2 separate regions of the Homo sapiens genome follow, and region 2 is linked to region 1. The links come from fine-mapping of genetic effects on gene expression. A gene starts in region 1. The other region holds a variant in brackets. All regions are shown on one strand. Distances are between the middles of the regions. Region 1 holds the start of NPR2 (natriuretic peptide receptor 2). Region 2 overlaps RGP1 (RGP1 partner of RAB6A GEF complex).

Region 1 (2,901 bases):
CGGGGTCATGGTACAGCTTGAGGTCCACAGCGCTCAGCGGTGCCAGGTACTCAGAGCAGGCGCCTTCCAGTTCGGAGCTGACAAACCGCAGGTCCACGGGCAGTGCCCGGCCCAGAGCCTCCACAGCTAGTGCCACAGCGGGTCCCACCCGTGGCCAGGCCCAGGCATAGCTCAGGTTGTGTTCTGGCAGCACCACCGCCAGCGTCAGGTTCCGCGCCCCGGGAGGACGCACCCCACCTGCCAGGGCTGCCACCAACAGCAGAAGTGATGGCAGCGCCATGGGGATAAAGCAGCAGCCCCACCGCCCCCAGAACTTGGGGCTGCTCTGGCCTACAGGGGAGACGCGAGCACCCCCCAGCCTGGAGCCTGGGGAAGAGGGCCAGGAAGAGGAGGAGTAGGCTAGGTAGGCTGGGATGCAGAAGGTGCTGGGGGCCGGGGAGAGGAGGGGGAGATGGGAGGAAGGCGGGGGGCGGGCAAGGAGTGGGCTACCAGCCTAGGGCAAGGACTGAGGACTGAGAACGGGGTGGCAGGGGGAGGGAGGGACCGAGGGGGCCTGCGGCCAGGATGGGGACAGTGCGAGGTGAAGAAGCCTGATAAATCTAAAGCTGAGAAGGAAAAGGGGATCTGGGACTGGGATGGGGTGGGGGTGGGGGGCGGGTGGTACAAAGAAACGGCCTGGGGGAACCTCACAGCTGAAAGGGCCGGGAGGGCAGGAGGGCGCTGCGCCACATAGGACCAAGGGGGTAAGGTGGGAGGGTGCCCGCGCCGCGGAAGGACTGGGATCATGGGCAGGCGGGGAGCGAAGCGAGGCCTGGGCCGGAGGGCAGGGGAAGGCAGGGGTAAATCTCCCTGTGAAGGATTCTCCCGGAGCTCCTGCTTGGACTAACGGGCCCGGGCGCTGGTCCCATCCGGAGCTACGGCGGCCCCGCCCGTGTCCCCGCTCCTCTCTGCTCCGCTTCTCCTGGGCCCTGGCGGCCGGCGCTGCCCGGCGCTTCCTCCCGCCCCCCGCCTGGGCCCCGCGCGCGCCGCTCGTCCGGGTCAGGTCGCCTCGGCCCGGCCCGTCTCCGCTCGCTGCGCCGGCGGCCGAGTGCGACTCCCCCGGGCAGGCCGCCCGCCCCCGCCCCTCCCCCGCTGCCTCTCCTCCTCCCTCCCGGCCCCACCCTCCGGCGCCGGCTGCCTTCCCCCACCCCCCACCCGGGCGCTCGGGACCGCCAGGTCCCAAACCCACCCCGGTGAGCACTTGGGGGCTCCGCACCAAGGCCTCGCCGGCCAGCAGGGTTCCCGGGCGCTCCCTCACTCTCAGGGCCTACCCTGGTCTCCCCCACGCCCCTGGTCCCCCTGCCGCCCCTCCTTCCATTTCCATCTCACACACGCCAGCGACCCCAGGGTTTGTCCTCTCCCCCTCGCTCAGCCCGTTCTTCTTGGGTCTCCCCTCTGAACTCCCTGAGTCCCTCAGTGGTTCCAGTCTCCAGGAAGCAGTCGAGGATCCCCAGACGTGTGGTATCCTCACCAGCCCCCTCACCTAGCAAACCATAGCGCCCTCCCGACGGCAGTGCGGCTTACTCCACCGCGGACCATGCCCGCTCCCTGGACGGGCCCCTCCAGCAGCCAGGGGCCCCTGCTGTACACTTCCCACCAGTCCTTAGAAAGTCCACGAGGCTCCTTCTTGCTTGGGACTCAACTCTCGGCCCCCCGCTGTCTCCATGCCCCCTGCCCTCCTCGTGTCCTCAGAGGCCCACCGCAGCCCGCCCGGCTTCCTCCGCACCATCTGCTCAGTCAGGGCCTCGATTTTCTTTTGTCTCCTGCACAGCGCAGGCTGGCGCCTGGGGAAAGCCTGTAACGGACCGGCGGGACACTCCCCGCAGTGGAAGCCCATCCACGCTCTCCTGGGGTTCCACCTTGCTCCCAGCTTCCCTTAGGAAGCTCTCCCTAGGGCCCTCATATCTGGAGTGCCAATCTGACCCCAAGAACAGCTTGTGAGGGATGATCTCATGGTGGCTGAGAGGGACTGCTATGGGACCTTGGGGATTTTTCTCCAACTGTCATAAAGGACATGCACATAAGCCCATTCTCTGCCCGCGCTAAGAGCCACGGTTTCTCTCCCCCCTTCAAGCTATTTCTCCAGAAATCACAAGCTAAGAGCGCTCCTGGAGCCCTGGAGTGGGGTGGGAGTGTATAGGGCGAGGACGGGCATGGTTTCCCTGAGATGAAGGCGACACCTAGTGGTTTGGTGGGGGAAATTAAGGACAATGCCACTTTATCCTTAGGCACGATATTTATTGAACACCGGCTGCCTAGCACAAGCTGTACCTGTGAATACAAAGAAAGCCGAATGATACAGCCCTTACCTTTGAGGAACATGCATTTGCAATCCCTGGGGCACAGAGGCCAAGAGCAGGCCGTCCCTAACAATGTTCTTGCCTCAAGCCCAGTAGAGATGGAAGCCTCAGGACAGCTCCTTCTTTAACGCAGAGGGGTTGGTAACTCTAGTTCCAGGCTCCCAATACTGCAGTGAAAAGGAATTTTGTCCTATCTGGCCAAGGCAAAAAAAAAAAAAAGGAACAGTCAAAAGAATGACGAGACAACATGAGAAATACTTTAGACCAAGTCAACCAAATAGAATAGTTGATTTTTAAGCAACTACACATTGTTTTATGAGACAAGCAAATCCAAAATGACAAAATTCCTGAAAGAATTACAGAATGGCAGGGCTAAGAGGATCATATAAATATATTGTTTAGCCCTCTCATTTAAAGATAATTGAAAACCAAATCCCAGAGAGGAAGGTCGCAGTGTCCTTACTTGCTCCTCTCCCCCAATCCCACATGGCTTTTTAGTTGCAAAAGAGAGATTAAAATGCAGGTTTCATGGTCTCCAAGGAGAGGCTCTTTATAGATATTT
Region 2 (2,901 bases), 34 kb after region 1:
CGGAAGATTTCAACATAAGAGTGTTAAAGGTGGAAAAGAGCCAGAAAGGACTGTGGGCTTAAAAAAAAAAAATCAGTGAAGCAGTAGTGGTGTATGTTGGCAAAGAGAAGTGTAGAGTTGAGAGGAGGGAGAGAATTTATAGTAGAGGAAGTCGGTGTGAAGTTTTCCTCTCAAGATGCCCAGCAGAGCAAAGAAGGAATGAAGGCAAAGGCCACTGGGAATAGAGTAGGGCTGGGGCTAAAACAGCACGGGAGAGTGCAACAGGGCCCAAAGTAAGACATTTTCTTTTCTTTTCTTTTTTTTTTCATTAATTGACCCAGATTTGCTTGTTTGGGACCAAAGGCAATGCAGAGTTTAGGGATCTTTATAATTTATAAAGTAATCACCTTTGGCCCAACATAACACAGATCATAAGGATCATGGCAGAATTCGTCTCTGAGACAAGTACAAAATACCATTTTAGAGTTGATTTTAGAAGAGAAGTCAGACTAATAAATTGCTGTGTTGTAGAAATACTATGGTGAATTAAACAGCTTTAACTTTTTCTATCAGCCACAGGATAAATACAGAAACTGTATAATTACATACACATCCACAGAAGATAGTAGCCTCATATGCTAAAATTGTGAGTTGTTTGTCTGTATACTGTAGTCCAAAGCTCCCATTCCAAGAAATGTTTTATTTGGTTCAAAATATAAAGGGCAGGTTAGAGGGCTACACAGAAAAAAGGCTAAAAATAAAGACAGTAAAATGAGGGAGAGGAAAAGTGGAAGTGCAGCACTACTGATCCAGAAAAACTGAGGCATCAGCCACAAAGAATTCAATCAAGTCAGTGAGGGGCAAATGGCACAAAAGCCAAACAAGAAAAAGGCTGAATACCATATTACCAATCTGAGAGCCTCACTTTTGGTTTTAAGTCAAATATTGAATTAGATTGTGCAACTTTTCTATTTTTATTTTTTTATTTTTAAAAATCCACCAAAATTACTTAAATCATTTGACAGAGTCATACAATTTTAAATGACTATAAAAATGTGCAGATCAGTGCCAAATTTTTTGGCAAAGGCTGAATGGCAGACAGTAATCCAAGACGCAGACAACCTTGCTTTTAAGCCATCCGTTACACAGAGACCAGCAGGCTCCCTTCTACCTGTGAGACCAAATAATCCCAAAATGTAACCAAATAATCATAACTCCCCCTACTCCTAAAACCTACCCTTCACCCTTCACTGTCTACGTCAGCCTCTGGACAGACCTGATGCCTGGGGTTTGGCCATTTCCGCCTTCCCACCCTGTGTTGGTCTCCCTCCTCCCTCCTCAGGTCCCTCAGTTCTCCCAGGCCTAACTTGGCGTGCTTCCTTCCTCTCTCACCCCAATCAATCCGGCTCTCCTTCCCTTTCTGGGTTACGCCACCTGCCCGACTCCCGGTTTCCCCCTCGGGGGCCCCTCCTTGCCCTGGGGTCTGCTCTCGGCCCGCCAAGTTCTCCCAGGGGATCCCTCCCCACCTGCCTCCATACAGTCAGACTGTGTTCAGTGTCCGTTTCGCGCCCGTAGCGACACCACGACAGAAGCCCACTAAGTGACCCTCTGCTCCCAGAAACCCTCCTGGCTCCTCCAGACCCTCCGGGGCTCTGGCCCGCAGCTCCCCTCTCCCTCCGGCGGCGGGGGTCGGCTGTGACTCACCAGAGGGCCAGCGGCCGGGGTTGGGGTGGGGGGGCCGGAATGCTCTCACTTCCTCTCCGCGCACCTGCCCCGAGGCTGGAGCGCCGCCCGGCCGGGCCTCCGGCGGATGTTTTCCTTGTTCCCAAGCGTGTAGTGCGCGCCAGCCGCCCCCTCCGGGACCTGCGCGCCAGCCACC[G/A]CGCCCCCAGGACCCAGCGGGCCTGGTCCTCACCACTCACCCCCTCCCCAGCAGGCACGCATGCGGGCTCGACCCACACCTCTGCACCGCCCCCCAACTTCTGGGAGAGGACTCCTGGCTCAGCCCAGCCTCTAGCTTTCCAGAAGCCCCTATATGCCTACCTCATCTTCGTTATAGGCGATGAACCTTCACTTCTGTCCCCGTTTCCGCACACGCACCAATCCCCACTGGCGATCCCTTCCCCTTCGGCATCACCCCCACCTTCATGCGCCCCAGCTCCCCACTCACATCCGCCCCCTATTGGGCTGGCTCTAGCTTGCAAGAGCAGAAGGTGGCCCAGGGCCCAGCCTTCCAGGATGTCCCCTGGACCCCCTCTCTGGGAAAGGCGGCAGAGCTACTGGCCACTGACAAGACCTTTGGGCCCTCGTGCTAGACAGGCCTTCGAATCCACCTGCTCCAGCCCAGAGAGCAGGCCCAGGCCGTGCCTCCCACACCGCAGCCGACCTCAGAGCACCCTGCCTCAACTGTGAGTTTTTTCTTGGCAATCCTCTGAAACGGAAAGGGTATCAGTCCTGACTAGGGCGAACGTGAGGTCCATTCTGCATCTCCATCCACCTTAGCTGTCTCCTTGGAAAAGGACAGCAAGGGAGTTTGAGGTGCACTGACACAGTCATTTCTGAACAGTGAAGAGATGACAGGTAGGGTGGTCCCCCTTGAAAAGTCAGCCAGAAGTAGCTGTATCTGATGCACTAGGTGGCAGGGAGTGAGTCTTGGAGTAAATGGGACTGAAAACGTAGAAAAACCAAATAAATGCCAAAGAGACTATCCCTATGGAGAATACCTAGAACATGGGTCTTTGAAGTGTGGAAAAATGAAAGAAATCCAATTTGACCAGGGCCTTTAGTGCCAAAGAGATGGCTAGCAGGAGAGTGGTGAGAAAGGAGAACTGGAGAGTTCACATGAGCGGAAATAGGAAGAAATGGATCCAAATCCAAGTGAGAAAAAGCAGGAGACTTAAAGTTAGCCTGGCAGGATGATGAGAA

Evidence for each region.
Region 2: its variant is fine-mapped to the expression of NPR2 in whole blood (TOPMed, PIP 0.98).

The regions. Positions count from the first base shown.
Region 1 is chr9:35,789,788-35,792,688 of GRCh38, reverse strand. It overlaps NPR2 (natriuretic peptide receptor 2), which reads right to left and starts at 1,098. Exons shown (of 22, transcript NM_003995.4): 1 at 1-1,098. The coding sequence starts at 280. It also overlaps a transcript of RGP1 not described here.
Region 2 is chr9:35,755,980-35,758,880 of GRCh38, reverse strand. RGP1 (RGP1 partner of RAB6A GEF complex) reads right to left here. Exons shown (of 9, transcript NM_001080496.3): 9 at 296-2,901. Among named protein-coding and RNA genes, the nearest start is that of MSMP, 3.2 kb to the right of the region's middle. RefSeq lists a silencer at 1,565-1,884. The variant G/A (reference allele first, on the strand shown) is at 1,859.